Regions from separate parts of the Homo sapiens genome. Here all the other regions are linked to region 7. Evidence: fine-mapped expression QTL. A gene starts in region 7. Each other region holds a variant in brackets. All regions are shown on one strand. Distances are from middle to middle. Region 1 overlaps GALNT10 (polypeptide N-acetylgalactosaminyltransferase 10). Region 2 overlaps GALNT10 (polypeptide N-acetylgalactosaminyltransferase 10). Region 3 overlaps GALNT10 (polypeptide N-acetylgalactosaminyltransferase 10). Region 4 overlaps GALNT10 (polypeptide N-acetylgalactosaminyltransferase 10). Region 5 overlaps GALNT10 (polypeptide N-acetylgalactosaminyltransferase 10). Region 6 overlaps GALNT10 (polypeptide N-acetylgalactosaminyltransferase 10). Region 7 holds the start of GALNT10 (polypeptide N-acetylgalactosaminyltransferase 10).

Evidence for each region. PIP is the estimated chance that this variant, and not a neighbour inherited with it, causes the effect.
Region 1: its variant is fine-mapped to the expression of GALNT10 in whole blood (TOPMed, PIP above 0.99). The same link has a PIP of 0.9 or more in blood mononuclear cells and spleen.
Region 2: its variant is fine-mapped to the expression of GALNT10 in whole blood (TOPMed, PIP above 0.99).
Region 3: its variant is fine-mapped to the expression of GALNT10 in ovary (GTEx, PIP 0.95).
Region 4: its variant is fine-mapped to the expression of GALNT10 in whole blood (TOPMed, PIP above 0.99).
Region 5: its variant is fine-mapped to the expression of GALNT10 in whole blood (INTERVAL, PIP 0.97).
Region 6: its variant is fine-mapped to the expression of GALNT10 in whole blood (TOPMed, PIP 0.98).

What each region holds. Positions count from the first base shown.
Region 1 is chr5:154,402,194-154,406,259 of GRCh38, reverse strand. GALNT10 (polypeptide N-acetylgalactosaminyltransferase 10) reads right to left here. Exons shown (of 12, transcript NM_198321.4): 8 at 2,049-2,156. All of the region lies in intron 2 of SAP30L-AS1 (SAP30L and GALNT10 antisense RNA 1), which reads left to right. Among named protein-coding and RNA genes, the nearest start is that of SAP30L-AS1, 42 kb to the left of the region's middle. RefSeq lists a silencer at 867-916. The variant T/C (reference allele first, on the strand shown) is at 2,233.
Region 2 is chr5:154,282,031-154,286,096 of GRCh38, reverse strand. All of the region lies in intron 1 of GALNT10 (polypeptide N-acetylgalactosaminyltransferase 10), which reads right to left. Among named protein-coding and RNA genes, the nearest start is that of MIR1294, 63 kb to the left of the region's middle. RefSeq lists a silencer at 114-408. The variant G/A (reference allele first, on the strand shown) is at 2,086.
Region 3 is chr5:154,244,526-154,248,591 of GRCh38, reverse strand. The region is part of intron 1 of GALNT10 (polypeptide N-acetylgalactosaminyltransferase 10); the gene reads right to left. Among named protein-coding and RNA genes, the nearest start is that of GALNT10, 56 kb to the right of the region's middle. RefSeq lists a silencer at 3,900-3,949. The variant T/AT (reference allele first, on the strand shown) is at 2,449.
Region 4 is chr5:154,394,061-154,398,126 of GRCh38, reverse strand. All of the region lies in intron 7 of GALNT10 (polypeptide N-acetylgalactosaminyltransferase 10), which reads right to left. The region is part of intron 2 of SAP30L-AS1 (SAP30L and GALNT10 antisense RNA 1); the gene reads left to right. Among named protein-coding and RNA genes, the nearest start is that of MIR1294, 49 kb to the right of the region's middle. RefSeq lists an enhancer at 1,700-2,420. The variant C/T (reference allele first, on the strand shown) is at 1,988.
Region 5 is chr5:154,261,405-154,265,470 of GRCh38, reverse strand. All of the region lies in intron 1 of GALNT10 (polypeptide N-acetylgalactosaminyltransferase 10), which reads right to left. Among named protein-coding and RNA genes, the nearest start is that of GALNT10, 73 kb to the right of the region's middle. The variant TC/C (reference allele first, on the strand shown) is at 2,513.
Region 6 is chr5:154,317,831-154,321,896 of GRCh38, reverse strand. All of the region lies in intron 3 of GALNT10 (polypeptide N-acetylgalactosaminyltransferase 10), which reads right to left. Among named protein-coding and RNA genes, the nearest start is that of MIR1294, 27 kb to the left of the region's middle. RefSeq lists a silencer at 2,880-2,999. The variant G/A (reference allele first, on the strand shown) is at 2,537.
Region 7 is chr5:154,188,910-154,192,975 of GRCh38, reverse strand. GALNT10 (polypeptide N-acetylgalactosaminyltransferase 10) reads right to left here and starts at 2,243. Exons shown (of 12, transcript NM_198321.4): 1 at 1,951-2,243. The coding sequence starts at 2,109. It overlaps LOC124901118 (a long non-coding RNA gene), which reads left to right and starts at 2,897. Exons shown (of 2, transcript XR_007059010.1): 1 at 2,897-2,980. RefSeq lists silencers at 1,948-2,007, 2,078-2,157, 2,248-2,357, 2,368-2,467, 2,558-2,647 and an enhancer at 2,868-3,833.

The DNA of each region.
Region 1 (4,066 bases), 210 kb before region 7:
ATTTAGATAAGACTTTTAAATACATGTTCCAGTCTTTATTGTTAATATTGATGCTAACACTAATAACAGCAGTCACTGTTTAAGGAACAATTGCTATGTGCCAGGTACCTGTCAGACCTACACAGGTTTGAATTCTGGCACTAGTTACTTAATGTTTCCATCGCCAACATCACGTTTCATGTTCCCCATCCCTAAAATGGGGTTAAAAACAAGTGAGAATTAAGTGAGATAAGTAAAATGCTTTGCATGCCTGGCTCGAAGGGAATTTTTATAAGTATTACTACAGTTAGCTCTTATCCACTGAATTAATCTATAATAATGGTTCTATAACAAGCAGGAGGCGGTAATGTCTCTTTATCAGGTGGGCCTTTTAAAAAAAAAAACAACAGCAACAACAACAACAACAAACTTTCTTTGAGACATGGTCTCGTTTTGTCACCCAGGCTGGAGTGCAGTGGCACACACAGCTCACTGCAGCCTCGACCTCCCTGGCCCAAGTGATCTTCCCACCTCAGCTTCCTGAGTAGTTGGGACTACAGGCACACACCACTGCGCCCGGCTATTTTTATTTTTAGGTGAGCCTTATCAACAACAGCTCTGCAGAGGAAAAGAATGCTTTAGGGTTGCTCCTGGTCTGGAGTTGGAGTGTCCCCATGGTCCCTTGTAGCCGGAAGAGTCTCAGTCTTGGGCGTACCGAGAGAGCGTGCGCTTTTCCTGCCTGGCTCCCTCCTCAGGGATCGCCAAATGGCCTTTCAGAAGAACGCGATTCCTGCTTCAAGGGACTGAACCTAGAACCTACCCCCCGCCCGTGTCGGATGGGGCTGTGGGCAGCGCGGATGGCTGGTGAGGGCGTCGTTAGGCTCTGCTACCACTGGAGGGCACTGCCGGCTCTCCTTTCCCTCCACGCGGCCCCTGACACTTCCCGGAGCTCAGCTCCCACCCACTGATGGCTCTCAGGGAGACGCGCGGCCTCTTTGAGCCTCTCGGCTTTCCTTGTAAGTCACAGGACAACGCTCTTCTAGGTCCCGGGGGCTGCAATTCTACACGTCAAGGTTGTCAAGTGGAGGAGGAGGCAGCGCCCTGGACAGGAGGCAGTGCGGTCTAATGCCAACCCGGCCAGCACCGGGGTCTCCTGGCCGGGGCGGGGCTCACAGGCTCCCCGGAGGGAAAGCTGTGCGGGGGTCCTTTCCAGCTTCCCCGCAAGGCTCTTTCTATCCTCTGGGGACCCTCCCTCCTCTTCATTTTTCTTTTGTGGTCACCTGGATTTATTTATTTTTTTCCGAATACATTTAATATCCAAACCAAAAACAAACTCTGGCTGACAGATTTCCATTTGCAGCCAGTGGCCAATTTAATTGAAGCAATGATTGATAGAAACCATTTTAAGGCAATGAAACAGTTTGACATGCAGAGGTTTTGGCAGTAAGAGTAGACAGGGGGTGAGGAGAAGAGAAAGACACTGACATTTATGAAGCCCACTTCCCCTCCAGAAATTTAGTACGCAAGCTTTCCCAAACACACCACACCACACCACCTGTATTAATATTTATCTAACATGTTTTTTTACATCACCTCTGGTCTAACTTTGCACCTACTTTAGCTGTATGCTAAGTAATAATATCTGTGAAATTACAGGTTAGCTACACGAATACACATTAATTTAGAATCCACATTAACTTAAACACATGAACAAGAAAACATTCCTGTGTTTGCTGCCTAAGATCGTCTCCTCTGTCACACTCTGGGAAACAGTATCACCTCCTTAATTCTCCTGGCAATGCTGGGAGTTGGAAAGAATTAGCTCTCTTTAAACAAAGGAGGAAACACAGGTTCAGAGGACTTAAGCAACCCTCCCCAGGTCACATAGCAATGAATGGTTAAGTAGGGATTTAAGGGAGTTCTTTTAAATCAGATTTCACCTGGAGAATGGGAGGCACATCCTCAAACCCAGAGATCACATAACACAGTCTAGGGCCCCAGGGTGCCTCAGTGCAGCTGATGGTCCTAGGCCAACCCCTTCTACCCGCCAAGGAAAGCCACCACCTTACCCGGGCCAGGCTGACTCCGGCCGGGACCTTGTAGGGCACATACTTCCTGTAGATATGGCCCACCCTGGAGCAGGGGATGTCCTCCATGCGGCCCCCACACATCCACACCTGCATGGCAAGAAGGAAGAGAGAGGATGACGTTTCTGCTTCCAGTTCACCATCCCGCCAGGCCAGCATCCCTTAG[T/C]GCACTCAGCAAAAGCATCAGCCTGGATTGTCTGCTGAAGCCTGGATCACAGACCTAATGACATGGGAAAACACAGTAATATAATAACAGCGGTAAAAACAGCTGACAGCACTGAGTGCTTACCATTGCCACACACTATGCTAAGATGGTCACATGCACAACCACACTTAAGCCTCATCAGAAAACCTATAAAGTAGGTAGTAACATTTTACAGATGCTGAAATGGAGGCTCAGAGAAGCTAAGAAATGTGACTCAGGTCACAGAGTAAGTGGTGGAGCCAAAATTTAAACCCTGTTTTAGCTGACTTCAGAATCTGAGCTCTAATCCACTATGGAGTGCTGTGTTGAGAATTCTAGGGTGGCATCGGGGGATCAGTGGGAAAGACCATGGTGATCACAAAGTGACATCAGCCACAGCATAAGTAGTCAAGGTGGCACACAGGTTCCGTAGATTTACTGTCACATATTTATTTTCCTCCTGGATCTATGAGCCTCTCGCTGGGTCTCCCTGAGCAGTTCCGTCAGCCTCCCTGCCCTGCCTTCTCTGAGTCTGGCTTGCTAGGCTGTGCAGCTGGGTCTTGCCGCAGTGTGGGATCTGATGGTTCTCTTTGCCTCCCTCTCCCAGGGAGGAGTATTTGACATCACAGAGAGCTCCTGAGTTTGCCCACTGGTCTGATAGCAACTTGGGAATGTGAACATGTACAGCCAATACTGACTCATACCCACTGAGGGGCCCAGCCTACATAGACCCTCCTTGGGAGGCCTGGGTTTGAATCCTGGCTCAGCCACTTACCCACTTGATGACTTTGGCCTACACAGACCCTCCTTGGCAGGCCTGGGTTTGAATCCTGGCTCAGCCACTTACCCACTTTATGACTTTGATTAAGGTACTTAACTTCTCTGAGACTCAGTTTCCTGTAAAGAAATAGAGGAGGCAGGACTGGAAGATGAGATATTGTGTGTAAAAGGGTTTAGCACAAGATCTGGTGCATACTCAGGACACAGCAGTGAATCAGTCAGCCGAGGCCCCAGCCTCCGAAGTGGCCTCACAATCCCTGCCTCCTCGTATTTGTGCCCCTGTGTAGATGCCTCCCAGTGAGTCACATGAGGACTGACCTGTGTAACCCACAGGATACTGCAGAAATGACGGTCATAAAGATGCCGTGGCTTCCACCTTTCTCTGTGGGACCGCTGGCTTTGGAGGAGCCAGCTGCCATGTTTGAGGACACCCCAGCCATGCTGTGGAGAGGTCCATGCGGTGAGAGCTGAGGCCTCCTGCCCACAGCACTAATTTGCCAGCCAGGTCAGTGAGCCACCAAGAAGCAGAGGTCGTGGTCACAGTCAAGCCTGCAGATGACTGCGGCCCTGGCTCATGGCCTGACTATTCTCCTATGCGAGACCCAAGGTGGAGCTATCAAACCAAGCCACTCCCAAATCCCTGGCCTAGGGAAGCGCTGCCATCATAACTGTGTATTGTGTTAAGATGGATTCTGGGGGTAATTTTTCCTGGCATAGGTAACTAACATGGGAGATGGTTTCAGGTGGCGATGGCAGAGCAGGGCCATTGCATAGATTCGTTGTAGGGGTGTATGGGATGTGAGAGATGCTACTTTATGCTCCCCAGTCAGGGAAAGCCTCACTTCGGAAGGGATGTTTGAGGTGGAACCAAGAAGGTGAAAGTAAAGGCAAGGGAACGGGTGGGAGAAGAGCAAGTGCAAAGGCACCAGGGCAGGGCCAAGCTTGGCATAATCAAAAAGAAAGCCAGGGCAGGAGCAGAGGGAGAAAGGGGAAGAGGGATGGGAGGGGAGGCCAGAGACGCGGGCAGGGCTCCCGC
Region 2 (4,066 bases), 93 kb before region 7:
TACATGGTACAAAGATAGTCCCTTTCTTTCAGATCAGACTGGGGGGATCTGATCCAGCCTGCAAGGTTTTCTTGAGAAAATTGGATTACAGGTTAACTCAGTAGAAAGAGGAGTACACAGCATTCCAGACAGAGGGAAAAGTAAAGATATGCAAAGATTCTGTGGCTGAGCAAACATGAATCATAGGAGGGCCTGGAAGAGCAGTGTGTGTGGTGCACAGAGAAGCAGGGAAAGTCTGGTAGGAATGAGAGGTGGACAGGGGTGAGGATTCTGTCTTTCCTCCAGGAGCATTTAGAAATACAAGTGTTTTCTATAAGGAGGTGATAAGATCAGGTTGCATTTGGAAAGCTCTCTTGTAGCCAAGTGGAAAAGGGATTAGGAGGCCAAGAGGAGGGGTGGAGGCTGGGAAGGAGGCTATCACAGTGGTGCAGGCAGAGATGATGTTAGCTTATGCTGGGAAGGCAGAAGTAGGGGTGGGCACACACAGATTTTTTTTAAAAATAGGGTTACTAGGGTCCTGTGGGTTTGAGTCAAGAAATAGAGCCTGAGAACTTGGACAGTCAGGTGAGAAGTTCATCTGTAAGAGCTGGATATCAATAGTCCCACAGATGCAGGTGAAACCCACCTGGGACCTGAGCCCAGCTCTCCCCTCACCTAGCCTGGTGTCTGTGTCATCACATGTTACTTTTAAGTTTCAATACTGTCCATAGAAAGCAAGTCAGGAGATCAGACCTAATGAGATAGGATTTTATGTCTATTTCACCTTCAAGAATTCAGTGACACATAGTCAAGAAAGAAGAGAGAAATCCTACAAGGGTGGTGGTGAGCCTCCCGTGCTCATGCAGAGTGTGCCTTTGCCCTCACAGTGTCCCTGGAGGCCCCAGTTCTCTCTGGCCCCTGGAAGTGTGAGCGCTCTGTGCTGGGGGAGCCTACTCTAGGAAGATAAGTATTTTCATTACCTCAGAAGGCACTGTGATTACTTCAACCAAAGAAACAGTTATCACTGGTGTTCAAGCTGGATTTAAAACTGCCCACACTGGACTTTTGAGAGGTGGTGTGTCTTCATATTCCATGAGCGATTGTCAAGGGTGATTCTGATTTTGTGTTATTTTCACCTTAAGTGGTGGGTTTATTATAGCCTAACTCTTTCATGAGATTAGACTTGACTATATTATTATCGTCATTATATCCACTTTGTAGATGACAAAACTGAGGCTTGGAGAGAAAATCGATATGAAAGCGTTTTGCAAACTGCCAACCACCACATGAGTGTAATCATCACAGCTAATAGCACCTACCACATGTACCTGCCCATTCCTTCCCAAACTCAGTATCTAGAAAGGCTGCAGGAACATAGCCCTCAAATATGGAAAACGTGCTGAGATGAATCATACTTCTGTACCAAGAGGGCAATTCACAAGAGGTTTTGAAAATCTCAGTCTAGCTGATGTGTGATCAATCACAGGAAAGCCCCTAGAAAGTGCTCTTCTTAGAGGCTTGACGGGCTGGGCAGGAGCAAGGGCTGCAATATTGCTCTGCACAGCAGCTGTGGATGGGTAAAAAGAAAAAAAGGAACTGGAAAGCTCATCAGAAGGCAAGTTCCTACTTTTCAGAGAGAGACTAAAAAATGACTGCAAACACATCCTATTAATCTCCTAGCTGGGTAAGTAGGGTTGAGCCACGCAGTAATAAAGTACTTGCTCTAATAATAGTAATAATTATAATCATAATCCCCTACATTCTGAAGACAGCAGACCAAAGTGAAGAAGACCATCTGCTTTGGCATCAGAAATGCCTAGGCTTGTGCCACAGTTCTGTTTATTAGCTCTGTGATCTTGGGCAAGTTACGCTATTTTCACAAGCCTTGGTTTCCCAACTGTAAAATGGGGGAAATTAATAGTACCTAGCATAAAGGTTATTATGAGGATTAAATGAGATGCAGCAAGTATAGCTCTTAGCAGTGTTTGGTATCTAGAAAGCACTAGCAATGCTAGCTACCATTATTAGTTACTATTTGGTAGTATTTTATAATTTACAAAGCATTTTTATATTTATGTCCCATTCCTTCCTCTCAGTTGCACCAGG[G/A]TAAAAGCAGACATCACCAACCTATTGTAATATCCTTCCTTGTGGATCCCAGACTTTGAGAATCTTTCTCAACACTGTGCTCCAAGCAGCGCTTACCCATCAGCTGGCATTGGTCAGGGGACAGGACCCATCTGCCACAGCTGCCTTAAGCTGGAAGAGTGAATTTCCAAGTACACCTGGTAGACAATGACCCACTGGTTGATTTCCACAATCTTGGCTCTTTGGGCTGGCTGGCTGCTCACTGCTTGCAAAGGTCCCCCAAGAGGGGGAGAGGGGTAGGGGCATGGGGAAGCAACATGTGACTGATGGTAGTCCCCTCCTCTTTGGACTCCTTCCTGGCCCAGGAGGAAAGTCTCTGCCTGGACAATGATGTTGGCCTCCTCCATCTCCCATCTTGGAAACTGAGAACTCTCTGAACTCTTCTTCTTTGTTTCTCTTAGGGTGGAGGCCACAAAAGGCTCTGAATCTCCTGGGCAGCACCCAGCCCCTTACCTATCCCACCTCACTCTCACTCTGTCACTCTGGTATTCTTGTTTTTATTTATTTATTTTTTTTAAGAGATAGGATCTTGCTCTGCTGCCCAGGCTGGCTTGCAGTAGCATGATGATAGCTCACTGCAGCTCCAGCCTTGACCTCCTGGGCTCAAGCAATCCTCCTGCCTCAGCCTCCCAAGAAACTAAGACTACAGGTACATGCACCACCACACCTGGCTTTTTTTTTTTTTTTTTTTTTTACAGACGAGGTCTTATTATGTTGCCCAGGTTGGTCTCAACCTCCTGGCCTTAGGTGATCGTCCCACCTGGGACTCCCAAAGTGCTGAGATTACAGGCGTGAGCCATCATGCCCAGCCTCTCTTGTTCTTATATAACGATTTCTTAGATATATGGTGTCCCAGGCAGGATGTGTGAGGTGCAACCACAAGAGAGCACAAAGGACAGTCTTCCCAGACCACAGCAAACTGCTATGAATGCAGATGCTCCCACAGGAATCATCTAAACCCTCAGGCAAGCTTCCCTAACCCCTCTGGCTAGATCACTGCCCCTGATATGGGACCTTACAGCATCCTCACTGCTCCTTTGTGACTTCACATTCATTTGGATGATCATTTGAATATTGTCTATCTCTCCCCAAATTGTGAGCTCTATGAGAAGACATCAATTTCTGTTGAATGAATGAATAATGAATGAATGAGTGGAGACATCTTTTATCTTTTCCAGATGAAGGAAAGGTCACTCAAGGATTAGACATGTCTAATATAGTCCAAAGATTTAATACCATAAAAGGGTTCTGAGGATTGACTTTATCCTATGACTAAATGGCTTCAGGTCAACTTAATGGGCTACAAAGCTCAAAAGAGAGCTGGCTCACCTGATCCTAAAATAATTTTTAAAAAGATGCAACAGGCTTTGAACTCTTCCACCTTCTTCCTTCTTTCATTTTCAAATGGTTTCCTTTCTGGATTCCTAACTAAGGCTTGTGGCAGAAATTGCTGTATATCCCCTAGGAGCTGTTCTTTTCTTCCACAGTAATAAGAATTTTAGCTGGGAATATGATTGCTCAGAATAAAGATGATATTTTCCTGACATCCTTGTAGCTAGATGTGGCTTGATTGGGTTCTGTCAATGAGAGGCGAGTGGAGGAGCTGCATGGTAGCCTGCTATGGTTTGAGCATGATCCCCAAAGTTTGTGTGTTGGAAACTGAATCCCCAGTGCAACAGTATTGGGAGGTGGAACCTTTAAGATGTGATTAGCTCATGAGAGCTCTGCCCTGACGAATGGATTAATGCTGTTATGGAGAGAGTGGGTTAATTACTGTGAGAGCAGCATCCTTATAAAGGATGAATTTGGTCCCAACCATCTCTCTCACCCATGTGATGCTTTCTACCACCTTATATCGCAGCAAGAAAGCCCTCACCTGATGCTACCCTTGATCTCGGACTTCCCAGCCTCAGGAACTGTGACCAAATACGCTTCTTTTCTT
Region 3 (4,066 bases), 56 kb before region 7:
ATAAAGTAGAAAATCTGGAAGAAATGGATAAATTCCTCAACACATACACCCTCCCAAGACTAAACCAGGAAGAAGTTGAATCTCTGAATAGACCAATACAGGCTCTGAAATTGAGGCAATAATTAATAGCTTACCAACCAAAAAAAGTCCAGGACCAGATGGATTCACAGCTGAATTCTACCAGAGGTACAAGGAGGAGCTGTTACCATTCCTTCTGAAACTATTCCAATCAATAGAAAAAGAGGGAATCCTCCCTAACTCATTTTATGAGGCCAGCATCATCCTGATACCAAAGCCTGGCAGAGACGCAACAAAAAAAGAGAATTTTAGACCAATATCCCTGATGAACATCAATGCAAAAATCCTCAATAAAATACTGGCAAACCGAATCCAGCAGCACATCAAAAAGCTTATCCACCATGATCAAGTGGCTTCATCCCTGGGATGCAAGGCTGGTTCAACATAGGAAAATCAATAAATGTAATCCAGCATATAAATAGAATCAACGACAAAAACCACATGATTATCTCAATAGATGCAGAAAAGGCCTTTGACAAAATTCAACAGCCCTTCATGCTAAAAACTCTCAATAAATTAGGTATTGATGGGACGTATCTCAAAATAATAAGAGCTATTTATGACAAACCCACAGCCAATATCATACTGAATGGGCAAAAACTGGAAGCATTCCCTTTGAAAACTGCCACAAGACAGGGATGCCCTCTCTCACCACTCCTATTCAACATAGTGCTGGAAATTCTGGCCAGGGCAATCAGGCAGGAGAAAGAAATAAAGGTATTCAATTAGGAAAAGAGGAAGTCAAATTGTCCCTTTTTGCAGATGACACAATTGTATATCTAGAAAACCCCATCGTCTCAGCCCAAAATCTCCTTAAGCTGATAAGCAACTTCAGCAAAGTCTCAGGATACAAAATCAATGTGCAAAAATCACAAGCATTCTTATATACACCAATAACAGACAAACAGAGAGCCAAATCATGAGTGAACTCCCATTCACAATTGCTTCAAAGAGAATAAAATACCTAGGAATCCAACTTACAAGGATGTGAAGGACCTCTTCAAGGACAACTACAAACGACTGCTCAATGAAATAAAAGAGGATACAAACAAATAGAAGAACATTCCATGCTCACGGGTAGGAAGAATCAATTATCATGAAAATGGCCATACTGCCCAAGGTAATTGATAGATTCAATGCCATCCCCATCAAGCTACCAATGACTTTCTTCACAGAATTGGAAAAAACTACTTTAAAGTTCATATGGACCCAAAAAAGAGCCCGCATTGCCAAGTCAATCCTAAGCCAAAAGAACAAAGCTGGAGGCATCATGCTACCTGACTTCAAACTATACTACAAGGCTACAGTAACCAAAACAGCGTGATACTGGTACCAAAACAGAGATATAGACCAATGGAACAGAACAGTGCCCTCAGAAATAATGCCACATATCTACAACTATCTGATCTTTGACAAACCTGACAAAAACAAGAAATGGGGAAAGCATTCCCTATTTAATACATGGTGCTGGGAAAACTGGCTAGCCATATGGAGAAAGCTGAAACTGGATCCCTTCCTTACACCTTATACAAAAATTAATTCAAGATGGATTAAAGACTTAAATGTTAGACCTAAAACCATAAAAACCCTAGAAGAAAACCTAGGCAATACCATTCAAGACGTAGGCATGGGCAAGGACTTCATGTCTAAAACACCAAAAGCAATGGCAACAAAAGCCAAAATTGACAAATGGGATCTAATTAAACTAAAGAGCTTCTGCACAGCAAAAGAAACTACCATCAGAGTGAACAGGCAACCTACAGAATGGGAGAAAATGTTTGCAATCTACTCATCTGACAAAGGGCTAATATCCAGAATCTACAATGAACTCAGATAAATTTACAAGAAAAAAACAAACAACCCCATCAAAAAGTGGTCGAAGGATATGAACAGACACTTCTCAAAAGAAGACATTTATACAGCCAAAAGGCACATTAAAAAATGCTCATCATCACTGGCCATCAGAGAAATGGAAATCAAAACCACAATCAGATAACATCTCACACCAGTTAGAATGGCAATCATTAAAAAGTCAGGAAACAACAGGTGCTGGAGAGGATGTGGAGAAATAGGAACATTTTTGCACTGTTGGTGGGACTGTAAACTAGTTCAACCATTGTGGAAGACAGTGTGGCGATTCCTCAGGGATCTAGAACTGGAAATACCATTTGACCCAGCCATCCCATTACTGGGTATATACCCAAAGGACTATAAATCATGCTGTTATAAAGACACATGCACACGTATGTTTATTGCAGCACTATTCACAATAGCAAAGACTTGGAACCAACTCAAATGTCCAACAATGATAGACTGGATTAAGAAAATGTGGCACATATACACCATGGAATACTATGCAGCCAAAAAAAA[T/AT]GATGAATTCATGTCCTTTGTAGGGACACGGATGAAACTGGAAACCATCATTCTCAGCAAACTATCGCAAGGACAAAAAAAAAAACACCGCATGTTGTCACTCATAGGTGGGAATTGAACAATGAGAACACATGGACACAGGAAGGGGAACATCACACTCTGGGGCCTGTTGTGGGGTGGGGGGAGTGGGGAGGGATAGCATTAGGAGATATACCTAATGTTAAATGACGAGTTAATGGGTGCAGCACACCAACATGGCACATGTATATATATGTAACAAACCTGCACGTTGTGCACATGTACCCTAAAACTTAAAGTAAAAAAAAAAAAAAAAAGCGCTTAAGATATCACCAGACATCCCTGGCCAGGCCCACTTTTATCCCAGATGCTTACCATTTCCATTGTTTATTGACGTCCATAATATTTCAAATGAATTAATCATACACATCCTCTTTTCATCATTACCTGGTAGACTAAATGCTTAGATTCTCCCCTCTGATTGTGGCTTACATATATTAATGTATTAATATATGAAGATCACAAAGTGATAAAAGTGTTCAAAAGGTAGAATTTATTAAAGGACGACTATATAATTAAAAAAAAAAAGCCAGAGCTCGGAGTCCCAGCTATATGACTCATTCACTGTGACCTGAGGACAAGTTTGAACCTTTCTGAGCTAGTTTTCTCAGCTGTGACATGGGTAGAGCAAGCTTACAGGGGTAGTACCCACTGGTGAGGATAAAATGAGATCACCCATGTCAGGTGCTTAGCACCATGCAGGGCACATAGCTAAGTGCTCAATGCACAACAGCTGTCATTGCTAGCCTCAACATCACCTGTCCCTCACCTCCCCGTATCCGACTGGTGACCAAGTCGTGCTGACTCCACCTCTTGGACTCTTCTGTCCTCTCATCCTTGTCTTTGCATGCCCATCCTCACTGCCACCATGGTGGCTCTAGTTGTCATCTCCACCCCCTTGCATCACCACACAAGTCTTCAACAGCTCTCCTGGACTCCAGTGTCCATTCCAGCCTGCTTTCCAGGCTGACAGCCCAGTGAGCTTTCTAAATTGCAAAGCTGTGCAGCTCATTTTGCTGCATGAGCTTCCAGAATCCCTGCAGTGGCACCCCATGGACTTCAGCTCCAAGGAAGAACCCACAGGCCCCTGGTGATCAGCACCCCCAATCTCTATCTTACATCTAGGTCTCCCCTCAACTCCATGTTCCACACTTAAGGAGTTTTGAGACCACCAAAAATGGTGAACTTTTCATACTGTGCTGTGTTCTCTCTGCTGGGAAAGTCCCAACCTCCATTTGCCTAGAAAACACACATTCATCTTTGAAGATATACCCCAGCAGTGATACCTCCTTGAGACCTGGTTCCAGGCTGAAGTGGCTGCCCCTGCTTTTTGCCCTCTCTGGCTGCTGCCTTTGCTTCTCTCACAGCACCTGTTCCCCTTTACTGGGCTCACGTGTTTTCACATCTGCCACCCTTGCTGTCTGCCGGATTATCACTCCATCCTGGGCAGTCCTCCAGCATAGAGAAAACACTCTTAACTAACTTATTACACGGATAAGCACTGAACTCCCCCAATCTCACCAGTCCCAGCTTTGCCCTC
Region 4 (4,066 bases), 210 kb before region 7:
TCTCATAGAAGCACCATGCCTCTAGACAAGTACAAATCTAATTGTGAAAGCCTGTTCCCCATTCATTTTCATTGCTGCTTTGATTTATTTTATTAGCAAACTTCTTTTGTGTGATGACAGGCTTCATTACAGTGCCTATAAAAGACAATTACCCGCTCTTATCTCCTAAACTGAGGGGGAAAGAAACGAGTGGTGATGTGCATTGGGAAAACACAATGGGACCCAGAAAGAAGGGCGCAGTGGAAGGGATTGTCCATGGAGGGGAACCCGAGAGGGCAGGGGCTGGGGCAGAGCTTCTCTCTGTTGAGGAAATGGCTGCCTGGAAGCTAGCCAGGAATGGCACGGCACCCGACCTGCCCAGAGATAAGGAAAAGACTGGCAGCTGGCCACGGCTTTTGCCGTTGGCATCTCAGCTGAGGACCCCTATGAAGTTCAAACCCTAATCAGTTGCATTTGGGGGAAAGACTATACTAATAATTGCCACCAATCATTCAGCATTCACTGTGTGCTTAGGAGGCACATAGGGTAGCAGTTAGGAGCTTGGTTCTGGAATTAGAATTGAGGTCCCACACAGGCTGTTAAGCAAGTTTTATAAGTCTGAAAGCCTCAGTTTCCTCCTCTGCAAAATGGGAAAAATTACTGTGCCTACCTCCTTAGGGTTGTGGTGAGGCTAAAATGAGGTAATGTAGAAGCTCAGAGGACACCGTGAGCTATCCATATGGTGTCCTGTGGGCACGTGGCCCATCGCTACTGGTGGAGGGCGTTGCATGAATGCTACACAATTCCCGGCTGAAAAGAAACTCATATTATTTTGAATGTATTAGTTTGTTTTCAACAAGATATTGTTTCAAGAAGTATCACCACCATGAAAGGACAACCTCAGTCATGCTGGTTTTGGATGTTTACTGGATGCAGCTGGTAAAAAAAAAAAAAAAAGTAGAAAAGAACAACTTTAGTTTTAAATTTACTTCTAAATTTAAGCTGTATTTTTTTTTTTTTTGAGACGGAGTCTTGCTCTGTTGCCCAGGATGGAGTACAATGGCACAATCTCGGTTCACTGCAACCTCCGGCTCCCAGGTTCAAGTGATTCTCCTGCCTCAGCCTCCCGAGTAGCTGGGATTACAGGTGCCCACCACCATGCCCAGCTGATTTTTGTATTTTTAGTAGAGACAGGTTTTCCCCATGTTGGTCAGGCTGGTCTCGAACTCCTGACCTCTAGTGATCCACCCTCCTTGGCCTCCCCAAATGCTGGAATTACAGGTGTGAGCCACCGCGCCCAGCCTAGTATTTTTATATGATACAGTTTTAAGCATATGTGCATCTAAATTAATAAATTAAACATAGGACTATCTCAACAATATCCTTAAGTGTTTATAGTTAGTTACTTCCCCAACAAGGGCGAGATGGTTACTTTACATTAGGTTTTGACTCAGATTTGGAAATACAGCAATCTCACAGCAACCCAGCGAGGGAGGCATGATCACACCCTTTACACATGAGGAAACCGAGGTTTAATTAACACTTTCCCCAGGGTTGCCCAGTGCATAAATGGCAGAACCCAAAATGGAACCTGGGGTTGGGTCAGAACTAGGCAGATCTGAGAGTTCCACAGAGACTGTGTTTTCCTAAGGTCTGGACCCACCCTATCATGGTCTTCCTCAAAGATCCCTAACAGCACTTGTATTGTCTGCAGAACAAAGGGGTCACCCTTGGCTTGCAATCAGGCCCTCTGCCACCTGCTCCCACCTATCACCTCCTACCCTCTCCATACCCGCTGGACTCCCTATGTGGATGCTGCTGACAACTGGCCGCAATGCATTCACTTTTCTGCCCTGGGGGCTTGTGAATTTTTCTTTCTGTGACTGTTGAAACCCCAAACAAACATTAATTACCTAATTCATTCATTCATTCATTCATTCATTCATACATGATCTGGTCATTGGTCAGGTTTGTTCTAAAAACCATGCTGGAAAAAATGGAACAGAAA[C/T]GAACTGCCAAGGGTGGACCAAAGATACAGAGCCTTGAAAGCCGGGTGAAGGTATTGGAACTTGTTGGCCAACCTGCCAACCAACCTGCCCATTTACTCTGTCCTTCCACACCCACGCCTGAGCATCCTCTCTGCACAACCTCCCACCTATTCATTACAGCTGCGATTTTCAACCTTGGGCCTCATCGGAAGCACCTGCAGGGCATGTTGAAACACAGCTGGCTGGGCTCCACGGCAGCCTCTGACTCAGCAGCCTGGGGTGGAGCCTGGTAATTTGCATTTCTAATAAGTTCCCCGGTGATGCTAATGCTGCTCGTCCAGGGTTCACACCTTGGGAGCCACCGCGTACTGGAATGGTGACAGCGTCTCAGGTGACTGTGCCTGCCAGTTCACACTATATTTCCTAACAGCCCTGTGAATTTGGGATGATTGGTGCCCCTCTGTAGATGGCGAAATAAAAGTTCAGGAGAAAGGGCAGATGAGTCCAAGATCTCACAGAGAGTTTGTTCCAGAACAGGGCCTAGAGCCAAGGCCTTTTGACCTGTCTTGCCAGCCTCTTTCCACTCTTGTCTTCCTGCAACCACAGCCCGATCACAATAACCACAACCATGCTGACATTAACAGCTATCATTTAGCGAACATTTATTATGTTCCAGGCACTGAGCTAAGCTTTTAATATATTTTGGCTCATATCATGCTCACGACTGCACTATGAAGTAAAGATTATTCCATCCCCTAAATAATATAAAGAGGAGAGGTTAAGTCACTTTCCCAAAGTCACACAGCAGCTAGCTCATTGAATTTGCACTAGAACCCAGGCAGTTTGATGCTGAAGCCCATCTGTGTAATACTGTGCTGTTCTGCCTCCTTACCTGAGGGTTATGATCAGAACAGCTGCCACTTATTGAGTGCCTCCTCTTTGGTTAGCTCTAGGCCAAATATACATATCATCCCATTTAGTTCTTACAACAAACTTTTGAAGAAGTTATTTTATTACCACTTTTAGGGATGAAAGAGCCAAGGCACCATGAGGTAGGTGTGTGCTGGTTAGGGAGTAACATACACACAGGCGACCCTCGGGCCTTTGAGCCGTCTCCTTGGAGGAGTGGTGGGAGAAGCAGGCTCCACAGGCAGGGACACTCATGGAATTTCAAATGACTTGCCGAGAGTCATGAGCAGAATGCCTTCCCTGTTTCTAGCAGACGGCTCTTGCAAAGGCTGGGCATATGTGGCCCCAGGACGAAAATGCTGCATGTATCAGAGCATATTTCCATCATCCTTGGATAACACAGGGAAAGGAAGAAATGAGGACCAGGTTCCTGGCAGCCATGCTGCAGCTGTCCGAGGCAGAGGGTGCTGGTAGGGGCAGGGAAAAGGATGGGGAAATGTATTGCCATATAGTTGCCTGATGGTGGCCCTGGATATCCTTCTGGTGCTTGGGCTGGCCTTTGGCAATCATTTCTCCCTCCTGTGTGGCAACTTAACCCCTCTCAGGGCTGGTCCTGACCTCTGGGCCCTTCCTGGAACACGGGCCTCTCTTTAGACTGGATACACCTTTTCTCTACTCCTACCACCAGGCGGAATGAGATGAGCACTGGGCTTGGAGCCAGGGCATCTGGGATTTAGCCTTGGCACTGCCACCTTCCGGTGGAGGGACCCTGCCCAGTCACCTAACCGCTCTGGGCCAGGTTGCAATATCACCCTTGCTCAGCTTCTGGGTGTGTCCTGCCTTCTTTTCACACGTCCTGTTTCACTTAGTCTTCTTGATAACACTGAGTTTTATGGGAAAAAAAAAATCAGAGTTTTTTTTTTTTTTTTTTTAAGTCTGTTCACGTAGCCTGGGACTGGGCTAGCCTTTCAGTAACCATATCAGTATCACACAAAGCGAACCCCAGTCTCCTCTGAGTCTTCATTCCTCTACCCAGAGAATGGGTTTTCCTCTCAGAACAAGCTCAAAGACCTTCCTGACTTCTGCAGGGGAGGGTGTCCTCCCTCTCGTCCCCTCACATGGCTTTCTATCACTCCCTTGCTCCTGCAAGCCTGCCTCATGGAACCCTCAGACCAATCTCCATTTTGCCA
Region 5 (4,066 bases), 72 kb before region 7:
TAAAAGCAGTAGTTGGTTTAAAGACTTTTGCAAATGCTCCTGAGTGTATTTCCTGGGTAGCCATGAGGTGTGAAATCAGTGGGCTTCTCTTGTGAAAGGCCTTGTCAGCATCAGGAAATTGAAGACATTCTGAGGTCCCTTATTTCCTGAGGTCCCTTCCAGGTCTACTGTTCTCAAGTAGGGTTTCACCCTTTGTTCTGGAAGGGATGTGCACAAATTTTCCTTCAAGACTGCATGACACCCTGCTGATTGTCTGGGGGAAGGGGAACAGGGAACTAAAGTCTTGATATGTTACCACAAGGCTCCCTACATCCATTCCCAAACTATAAATACTGCAAGAAGGGGAGAACATGTAAGGTTTAGAATACTCATCAAGAAATCTGTCTCTCCAGAAATTACGCTCGCTGGCTATTTTAGTGTTTCCCTTAGAGACTGGTAAAGAAAGTCAGCCTAACTACTGCCCCTGGAATGATCCTAGAATGAGGTCAGGAAGGGAGCTCTGACTGGTGTTCCCATTGGCTATAATTTCTGGCCCACTGGAAGTCATAAGAAAGCCCACTCTTTTGACAGTTGGCATGAAGAGCCCACAGTATTGGGCTGTAGATTTCAGGCACTCTCTGAGAACTGCTAAGTGGGGGTCTGTACGGCTTAGAAATGCAATTGATTTCATCCAAGAAAAGAGGAAACAAGTGTTCATTTATCCTTGTCTTGGACAGAGACCAAAGGGTCACTGTGGACAGCCAAAAGCCCTTTGACTTATCTCTGTCTCTTGGTATTCTAAAAATTCCACCTCATTGTCTTGTAAAAATACTATGTGTTAGCCTACAATTTTGAACAATTTCAATAGAAAAGTTTTAAAAAGAGTAAAAAGATTTACTCTTCTTACTCACCAAGATTTACCGATTGTTAATATTTTACCGCATTTGCTGTCTGCCTATATATACATTATATACATTTTTTTTCTGAGTCACATGGAAGTAAACTGCAGATATCATAATGCTTGGTCACTGAGTACTTCAGCATGCATCTGTCGAGCAAAGGAACATTCTCCTATATAACCACAATTCTATTATCACATTGATATAAATTATTATCTAATACATACTCCATATTCAGGTTTCCCATTGTCCCCCAAATCACTTTTTTTTTTTTTTTTTGGAGACAGAGTCTTGCTCTGTCTCCCAGGCTGGAGTGCAGTGGCATGATCTCAGCTCACTGCAACCTCCGCCTCCCAGGTTCAAGGGATTCTCATGCCTCCACCTTCCAAGTAGCTGGGATTACAGGCATGCACCACTGCGTCTGGCTAATTTTTGTATATTTAGTAGAGATGGCGTTTTGCCACATTGGCCAGGCTGGTCTCCAACTCCTGGCCTCAAGTGATCTGCCCGCCTCAGCCTCTCAAAGTACTGGGATTACAGGTATAAGCCATCACACCCAGCCTTTTTAAAAGTGACATATAAATCACATAACACAAAATTTACCCTTTTAAAGCATACAATTCAGTGTTTTTTAGTATTCTTATAAAGTTGTATAAACATCAACGCTATCTAATTTCAGATTATTTTCATCATCCTAAAAAGAAACTCTGTACCCATTATGAGTGCTATGGTGTGAATGTTTGTGTCCCCTCTGGAATTCATATGTTGAAATTCAAATCCAAAGGTAATGGTATTAGGAGGTAGGGCCTTTGGGAGTGATTGGGTCATGAGGGCTTGGATTAGTGCCCTTAGAAATAAGACCCTAGAGAGATTGCTCATCCTTTCTACTATGTAAGGGCACAAATAAGAAGGCACCGTCTACGAACTAGAAAGCGGGCCCTCATCAGACACTGAATCTGCCACTGCCTTGCTCCTGGACTTCCCAGCTTCCAGGAATGTGAGAAATAAATTTCTGTTGTTTATAAGCTATCTAGTTTGTGGTCTTTTGATATAGCAGTCTGAATAGACTAAGACAATCAGTCACTCCCCTTCTCCCTCCCCTGAGCCCTTAGAAACCATAAATCTACTTTCCATCTCCAGGGATTTGCCTATTCTGGATATTCCGTATAAATGGAATCATGCAATACGTGGTCTTTGTGTCTGGCTTCTTTCACGTAGTATAACGTTTTCAAGGTTCATCCATGTTGTAGTGTGTATCAGTACTTCATTCCTTTTTACAGCTGAATAATATTCCACAGTCGGTATATATACACATATTTTATAAATCCACTCATAAGTAGACATTTCAGTTGTTCCCACCTTTTGTCTACTATAAATAATGCTGCTATAAACACTCATGTACAAGTTTTTCTGTGGCCATCTGTTTCCATTTCTCTTGGGTATATACCTAGGAGTGGGACTGCTGGGTCATATGGTCACTGTGTGTTTAACCTTTTAAGGAATTGCCAGACTGTTTTCCAAAGTGGCTACATCACTTATAGAACCACCAGCAATGTCTGAGGGTTCCAATTTCTCCACGTCCTTGCCAACACTTGTTATTGTCTGTCTCTAAATTGCTTTTATAGCTTTTTTTT[TC/C]TCAAACCAAGATCCAATCAGGGATTCTGCATTATATCTAGTTACCATGTGTCTTTCATTTTCTTTAATCTGGACCAATTCACCAGTCTTCTTTTGCCTTTCCTGATGTTAACATTAAAAGAATAAAAATGGGGTCTAGTTCAGAAGAGGGATTTATTCCTGATTCTGATAGGATCCTAAAGCACCCTTCTCTTGCCCATTGCACTGACAACTTGAGGGTCTTGAGGGTGCAGCCTCCAGGGAGATAAAATGGAGCCCAGCTTAGTGCTGAGCACAATGACCTAGTGGCTCTTACCTGGTAAATGCTTCTCAACCTCTTAAAGCTTCTGTTCAGCATCAACAGGGAGGCTCAGGGGAAGGACAGCAGGTCAGACTGAGGTGGAGAAGAGCGTTTCTGATGGACTCTAGGGAATCTGAGTACCTGCTTCAAGTGGCCCTTGGTGATGCCTGCCTGGCTGGGCTGTCTTGAGTGATGGAGTTAATTGGGGTCACTGAACTACAATGGGGTGTAGCACTGGAGAATAATACCTACCAGCCCCACTGCAGTAATGAGCGCTGACATATATCACATTTCAGACTGTAGCTAATTAAATACTCTACAGCTTCTCCAACAGAAATGAAGATTTGAAGCACTGAGCTGAGAGGGACAGAAGGAGGGGTCCCGTGACCTAGCTCTGGCTTAGCCAAATTCCCTGCATTGATGCCAGGCAGGTAAATCAACCTGTCTGGGCCCCTCCCTAATCTACAATGCGGGAGAAAGGAATGCACATGAGATTTCTTTAAATGTTAGGGGTCTCCCATTCTAGGCAGGATACTGTCAGTTAATGTTACCGAAAATAACTCAAATGTATTCCTTGTCAAAGGAAAATTTAGGAAGAGCTAAATGCAATACAGCTAAAGCCTACAAGGTAATACTACCAGTAACCCACATGAACTATCTCTTCTCTTTTATGGAGTATCCCACGACTCTTCCATACATGCTATCTCCTTCATCCCCAAATAGGGCAGATAGATGTTATCATTCCCATTTTGCAGAGGAAGGCTCACAGATCTGAGGTTAATTCATTCATTCTGGGGCAATAATCATAAAGCATCCACCAAGTGCCAGGTGCTATGCTAGACCCTGATGGCACAATCGTAAGCTAAATAGGTACGGATTTTGCATTTTTGCTGTGAGCTTTCAACTGGGCAGGGAAGACAATAAGTAACAATAACAGGTAAGCACCACTTTCCTAAGGGAAATACAGGGAGTCCATGTGTGGGGCCCTAACCTTGGCTAGGGATTTGCCTCAGGTGTCATTCACAGAAGGTATGAGACCTCTGGTTCCTTCCTTCCATTCTACCAAGGCAGCAGGAGATATATACCTCCGGTAGTAGGAATAAAACTCTCACCTAGGGCCTGCTTAGCTGGTGGAAGAAAAGCAATGGAACACATTTTCCCTTGTTTGGTGCTAAACACAGAACTGTGGAATGAATGCACTTTAGTGTCCAAGGGGCTCATCTCCTAAAGCAACAAGTCCAGATAAGACTCAAGGGATCTTAGGGTTTGAGTA
Region 6 (4,066 bases), 130 kb before region 7:
TTAAACTTGGGCAACACTGACCCCAGAGTCTCATGCAACAGCAATGGGCTGGAGGTGACAGTGGGTGCCCCTCTCTAGGGGGCAGGTGCTGTCTAGGGGGCAGGTGCTCTCCAGACACTTCGGCTCTCACCACAGCCTCACACCAGGGCAGCTTCAGCTGTTTCATTCCCTCATGTTAGCTCCCAGATCCCTGGCGATGCTGGAATCTGAGAGCCTGGAAGTAAAAAGCATCAAGGGAAGGGGCTCCAGAGACTGGTAACAAGTTCTGGGGGTGGCCAGGTGCAGTGGCTCACACCTGTAATCGCAACACTTTGGGAGGCTGAAGCAGGAGGATCACTTGAGCTCATGAGTTCAAGACAGCCTAAGCAATATAGTGAGACCTCATCTACAAAAATAAAAAAAACAAACTAACAAAAAAACAATTAGCCGGGTGTAGTGGTGGGCACCTGTAGTTGTAGCTACTTGGGAGGCTGAGGTGGGAGGATCATTTGAGCCTGGGAGGCAGACGAGGTTGCAGCGAGCCAAGATTGTGTCACTGCACTCTGGGTGACAGAGCGAGACCGTGTCTCAAGGAGAAAAAAAAAAAGTTTTGAGGAGAAACTTGTGACATCTCAGGGCAATGCATGTAACAACAAAGTCTCTTTGTATGCCATTGCAATCTACTGTTCAACTGTCAAAATGGGCAGGAGTCACTTTGCAACTTACTTTGAAATGCATCAAAACGTATAGTGGATTGAGGGGTGGAGAGAGGGTTAGATAGAGATGTGATCAAGTAAGTAAACCAATGCTAATTATGGACATGATGGGAACATGGGTGTTCGCTGTATAATTCTTTCAATTTTTCTGTATGTCTGATAATTTTTAGAAAGAAATGCTGAGGGAAAAAACAGGTCAGAGTCCAGAGACTTCTTAGTTTCAAATTGTACCTCTGCTAGAGGCACCAAGGGAAACTGTGGGAGGGAAGATATGTCCTTGCCCTGACTTAACCGTTGCATCTGGCAGAGAGCTCATTCCAGCTGTGTGAACAGGACTCCCCTGATTCCAGTAGTCCAGTTCTGATGGAAAAGTCAGCCTCTCTCCCTTTGGGACCTTCCAGACTTCCTTCACATCCTCTCTTGCTTTACCATCTTGCTGGCCTCTTTTTATCCAGTCCCCACACAGCCTTCCTCTGCCCTTTCCCCTTCTCTCTAATCCTTTTGATCATTTCATCCAGCATTCTCTGGGAATCTGCTCCAACTTCATTATGTTGGCCTTCACAAATAAATGAAACCACCCCTTCTTAAAAATCCCCTTTCCTTAACTCAGCTGAATCCTTTGCGGCCAAGAAAGACTGGTGATATCTGGTTTTCTACAAAAGTTCCTGCCTTAACATCTAATTTCACAGGAGGCTTGCTTGATTGAAGCAGGGTTGGGGGCGGGGTGGGGTGTTAGCTATAATAAATTGCCTGGGGTCCACGGGTGAAATACAATATAGCTATTACACAGCAGAAAGCCCTCACTCACTCCAGGCCCAGAGCCGGGCCCCACAGCCTGCAGTTAGACACACAAACACCATCATGCATTAAGGGAAGTAGACAAAGCCACAATAGACTAAATTCACTTCTAATTTAATTCAATCATGGAATTAAAGATTATTCAGAACTCAAATAAAAGGCTCAGCTTGGATCACAGCCCTGAACGTGTGCCTGTCTTTTAAATTTTTTTTGATCTCTCTTTCTCTCCCTCCTCTATCCATCCATTCATTTCCTAAATAAACACAAAACTTAAATTCGACTTTTGCCATGAGCACTAGTCATTAGTTTGGTCCCAGCTTAGTAGAGGTTCTTTGTTTAAATAAAAAATTGTGTGACCTGCTCAAATTAATCTCTCCAGTATCCAGCAGGGTACCTGGCTCTATAGACCTGCCCACAAGCCACCTTCCAGTTGAGAGCCCAAGCAAAGCCCCTTTTCTCCGCCTCTTATTAGGCTGCAGATCACAGCAGACAAAGGGGACCTGGGGACGACACAGAAGAAAATAGAAAGCCGCCACTCACACCAGTGACACTCCCATCTTAGCAGCCCCACTTAAGACTTGTCTACATGTTGTGTTTTAGGATCTCAACACTGGATGGTGGAGTGTGCCCTGTTCTTTTGTGTATGATAAACAAGAAGCATCCTTTTGTCCACATGTCCTCAGAAAGGAGCCACAGGGAAAGGGGCCTAGGGCACTGCTCCCATTGCAAAGAGGCTGGGCATGGCTACCACTGTGGGCCAGGCAATATAACCTCTGCTGCCTCATGGCTTACGCCTGACAGTTTAGAGAGCACTTTTCCCTCTCTCTCCTCTAATCTGTACCATATTCAAATGAGGGAGATGAAGCAGAGAGTGTTAACCCCATTTTCCAGATGAGGAAAATGGAGCTCAGAGGGGTAAATGAGTTGGATTCAGGCCTCAAATCCAGGTAGTATTTATTTAAAATAATATTTTTTAAAAATTTCAAAAGTGATCATTGCTAAGCACAAAAGTCTGGAAGACAGAGGGGCTCAAAGGAAAACTG[G/A]CAATAGCAAACATACTGTCCTGCCGCTAACATGTGGGGCTGATCTCTGCTAAACATTTGGGATGTGTCCTCTCTGTGTTCTCCTCTGCACATGTGCATTTGTTTTTACAACATGGCATAAAGCACACAGACTCTTCTGTGTCCTCCCTCTGTTTCCCTCACCCTAGATGGCATCCAGGTCTTTGTGGGCTTCCACATGCAGCGTGGCCTCCTGAGGTGCTTGGAAGAGTCTCTCTGGGGTCAGGACCAGGCAGAGTGATGGTCCAGCTGAGGGTCAAAGCAATGGTAGTCTGAAACTTCCAGCACACAACCTCAATGTTGAGGCCCTCTTGAATCAATACTTCTGACCCCCAAAGGTACTGTGAAAGAAGAGACTTCTGTGGAGTTTAGAATTTTGCAACTGAGAGTTGGTGGAAACATTTTCTCTGTTGCAAAAGCACTTTCACTATCCTTTGGTTTATGGTCTGATTAGGTTTCAACCCTGAATGCGCAAAGCTTAGTGAGAGGTGTACAGCACAGGGACAAAGACACACAATTGGGGATGTTGATTGACACACATTGAAATAGTGAAAAGAGCAGAAACAGTGAATGTCCACCAATAGGGGAAGATTAAATAAAAGATGAAAAATTCAAACTATGGAATGCTGATAAGCAGTTAAAAAATAAGGCAGAAAGTGACAATGACAATAATAGAAAACATCTGTTGAGGATTTCCAATATGCCAGACAGTGCTGTAGGCACTTAATATGCATTAAGTCATTTAATTGTCAAAATAATCTTACAATGTAGGGAATATAATTCTCATTACAAAGAGGAAGAAACAAGATAGAGAGAAGAAACTTGCCTATGGTCAAATAGCTGGCAAGGAATGAAGTCCAGATTTAAACCCATCTGTCTTTTATATATATATATATATTAGTATTTTATAGGGATAATTTATCAATCCTATTAATTGTATCAGCAAAAAAGAATGACTAGCTAAAAAGCAAATATTGAGGAAACTAAGTAGGTGTTTGAAATCGTGGCTTCTAGCCTTTGCTCTGCCATGCAACAATCCAAGTCAACAATCCATGCAACTGAGGTCCCAGCTGGACCTCAGTTTCCTTTTATGTCAATGAGGGAATGGGCAAGTCTGCATTTCTTCTCTTTCTCTTGGTAGCAGCAACCCGATTTTCCTTGGGGAATCTCCTACACCTCACCTGTATAGGGCTGGGGTGGAGCTGACTCATTCCTTGCCTTGAGGGTGGCCAAAGGAGCCTGGCTTAGCCAGTCATAGCATGTCACCTCTCCAGCCCCGTTATAAGTAGTTCTAGGACAGGCACCTGCAAATCAGAGAAAGTCTTTGCTGAGACAACTGGGAAAGACGCAAGTTCTTTTCTGTTGAGATTGAACATGGGAGGATATATATCTGGTCTGCCTGGGGCAACCATGTGGACTGTTCCTTGCCTCAGAATGAAGTTAACAGAGTGGAAAACAGAGCCAAGAGTTGGAGAGAGAGATTCCTACTGGCATCAGTCGGGGACCCGGATC
Region 7 (4,066 bases):
ACCCTCTTGCACAAGTGAGTAATTTACTTTGAAAGCTCAGGCCAAACTGGCAGTTAACCTTGACCTTCTCTACCCATCTGGGTCTACAGAAATGAAAATCAGGATGTCTTTGGCATCTATTGCAAATGAAATACGAGGTCTTTCTCCAAGCAGAGGCAGAATGTCAAGCACTATTTTAGAATGGGCTACAGCTATTCTAAAGGAGAGTTTGCACTAGGGTAGGACACTCCCCCTTGACCTGGAGCTGTGTCCAGTATGGAGCCTCCACAGCTAGGGATGCTACAAGGAACTCTGGACTCAAGACAGAAAAAAAGAAGGGACCGTTGTATTCCTCATTGATTAACTGATAGTATCACAGAATGTTAGAACTGGACCAATAATCATGGTTTACAGACCAAGAAAGTAAGGCTCAGAAAAGGAGATGAAAGGTGATCAAGGACACACACAGTAAGTTAGTGGTAGAGCTGAGGTCAGAACCCTGGAACTCCTGACTCTGATGCTGGTACTGAATAGGAACAGAGGAAAGAGATTTCATGAACGGAAAATCCATACAGATACAGAATTTCAGGGAGAGAGGTCTAAGCTAGCTGTCAGGGTTTGAACCAGGGGTTTAGGAAAGAGATGGAAACCTTAGTTTCTAAACAGTAAGCTCTACCAGAAAGATCAATGAGACCCTCTGGGATGCTTTGCAGCAATTAACAGAGTTACAGGCGGAGCTCAAATTGGTCAGCTCTGTAGCAAAGAGCCCTCTGTGCTCCAGATGCCAGACTGCCTAGACAGCAGCCTGATACTGGGAAGAATAAGGAAAACCATCAATCTCAGAAAAGCCAGCCTCTTTCGTCGAGGCCAGCCAACAGTCAGTCAAGTCTGACCCTGATACACAAATTATCCACTTCTCATGGGACCAGAGAAATCCCGTAAGAAAGCCTGAAATGTTCCACTATATGAAACAGTCTAAGCAATACACTCACTAGCACCTCCTGGGAGGGTGGGAGTGATGTGACAGAGCTTCTGCTATGAGGGAGCTGCTAGTCTAAATGCGTGCACGCACACATACACACAAACATACGTGGGTAAGTTCAAAGGAGGCAGAAACCATTCCGATCCCAGTTTTGGCTGCAATAAACACTACAACTAACCAGACTAGACAAGTTCAGAAGAGATAGGGAAGGCTTCTGGTGTTCCATCCTCAGGACACTGGGCACCAATAGCCTCTGGGACATTTTGGGGGTCCCCCCACCAGAGCCCCACCTCTGGACTCCCATAAGGTCAAAGGCAGCAGGTCCCTCAAGGACCAGGAGCTTACCCCCTTCTCCACCCCCAGGGGCTTGAAGCTTTAAAGGGAGCATGATCTTTACATTCTGCAAGGAATCCACAGGATCTGAGAAAGGAAAAGGCTAGAGTTGGGGCGGGGGTGTTGAATAAATGGGGAGAGGAGGAAGGCCCGGGTGTCTCGTTGGGCAGATGAGAAATCAGGAAAAGGGCTGACCTGAGCAAAGAACACTGGGATCAGCAGGTAGGGGTTGTGGGGGGGGGGGGGTGGGAGGAGGGAAGCAGAGAGGACCTGGACACCAAATAGAAGAACCAGAATCTTCATTCCTATTGGCACAAGGCAGGAGTCATCCTGGGATACAGGGATGCAGATAGGATCCTTCAAAAGAGATCCGCTGGAAGACGTCAAGGAATACCAGACGGGGACAGAAAGGAAGGTGGTAACATGTGGTGAGAAATAGCGTCCTGAGTGCTAGTTCGGACTCAGTCTCTGACTGGCGTGGGACCCTGGACAAGTCCCGACAGGACTTAATTTTCCCATCCGGAAAATGGGAAGAGCTGAAGAGTCTCGGAGCTGACTCTGAGGAGGCAGACAGCAGAAGGTGGAGGAAGGAACCACAGGCTAAAAGTGAATTCGGGAAGGGGGTGTTCCCGGCCTGTAGCAACGGGGGGACTCACCTGTCCCGCCGCCGGCGCCACCGCCGCCCCCGATCCCCCAGGGGTGCCGTCGGGCTGCCGCTCGCGGTACAGCGCCCAAAGCCCCACGTTGGGCAGGAGGACCAGGGCCGCCAGCACCAGCGCCACCGCCTGCAGGAGCCGCTTCTCCTTCCGCCTCATCGGGGCCGGTCAGCCCCGCCGCGCCCCGCCGGCCCCGCCGCGCCGCCCCCAGCTCCGCGCGTCCGCCCGTCCGCCCGGCGGCGGCAGCAGCTCAGCCAGCAGAAGCGGCTGCGGCGCCGGCCCCGCTCCAACTCCGCGGCACTTCCGCCGCTCGCCGGCCGGGGAGCTGGGCGCCGCCACCACGCCGCCGCCACGAGGGGGTCGTCGCCGCCGCCACCGCCCCCGGGCCCCGCCGAGCCGCCCGCCCCGCGCCGCCTGCCCCCGCGTCGACCGCCGAGTCTCTGCGCTGCAGGCTCGGCCCTCTCACGGAGCGTCTCGGCCCGCCCGGGCGCTGCAGGATGCCGGGCCGGAGCGCTTCCCCCCTCTCGAGCCGCGATGGTCCGTCCCACTCCTCGGCGGCTCCCCCGCCCTCTGGAGCTTTGCGAAAGTCCCGGAGTTGGCGAGTTGGGCGCTAACTGGTGCGGGCTGGGCACCGCTGGGTGGGGTGCATGTCCGCTCGCCCGGGTACCCTGCCGCCCCGCCCGGCAACCTCCGCCCGGGACTGCAGCCGAACCTTTGCTGCCTCCCTGGGGATATGCAAATAGTGCTGGGGCCCCGCCGGGCGTTCTGAGCCTGGAGCCCCCGGGGCTGTCACTTCCAGCCCACCTAGGCTCGGCCCCCAGGACCTGCGGACCTACTTTGACCCCGGCGACTCGGTGTTCCCGGCCATGAAACGGGGCCACAGCCGTGCTGCACGCTCACTGTTCCGCGGGCGGGCCCTGGTTTTCTTCCTCTAGGGGGGCCCTGGCGTTAGGTGTGAACGCCCTCTGCAAACTGTAGGGAGCTGTGCCCGGCCGCCGCCCGTCTGTAGATCCTGCAAACCGGCGGGTGGGTAAGTGACGGTAGCCTCTCTGCAGCACCTTTCCTCACGCAAGTCCAACCCCCTTGGAGTTAGAATGCCCTGCATTCTCACGCGTGCTTTTGGATCCTAAGCGCACTGAGCCCTTCCCGGAAAGCTCTCAGCAAACCGTTGGCGAGCGCCACTATGTGCCAAACACTGTGCCAGGCTCTGGGATGAAATGAAAACAGACCTGAGCCCTGACGTCTGGGAGCTGAAACATGAAACACGTAATTTCACTAGACCAGGCAATGTGTCTGTAACTGTGGCGAGGGCTTTGACAGAGGAGTCGGGCTTCTGGGCGATGCGGAGGGCCGTGGAGCCGGACTCCGACGGTGATGCCAGCCAGCGGCTCCTCCTCGGGGCGCTCGACGCTGGTCACTTAGCTGCCTCCTCCCTGATGCGGTGGAACGGAGCACCCCCTTGGCTACCTTACTCTCTGCCACCCCCACATTCGTCCTCTTGATTCTCTGCTTCTCTAGCTCAGCCGCTGACCTTCGTGCCTAGCTGCCACTAGTCCTTGACCAGCGTTCTGGCAACTCTTGCCTCCAAGTTCTTCCAGCTCCAGGCTGAGCGATGGGGATTCAGTTTTCTGACATCACAGCTCAGTTCTTGATTTCTGCAGCAAAACCTTCAAGGCTTCCATCACCTCGGCTCTAGAGTCCATCATGCTCCTCTCCTATGACCTGCTAGGGCTGATCAAACGTTCTGTCTCCTGCCGTGCCCTGCCCTGCCCTGCCCTGAGCTTCGCTTAGCCTGTTGCAGGCTTTGTGTTTTCCTTCTTGTGCTGTTGACCACGCAGCTCCTTCTACCCATAAAACCCCCTTCTCTAGGTCGGTGGAAATCTTGTTCATCCTTCCGTGTCTAGTTAAACTGCCACCTCCTCCACGAAGCCTTCTAAAACTCCTCCTCAGGGAACTGTTTTCTTTCTTTAGATTTCCATCACAATAATGCTTACCTTTTATTGAGTGCTTACTCTATGTCAGGCAGCCCTTGAGATGCATTACCTCTTTAAATGCTCACAGTTACCCTGTGAGGTACATGCTTTTCTTATACCCATTGGCGAATGAGAGTCAGATT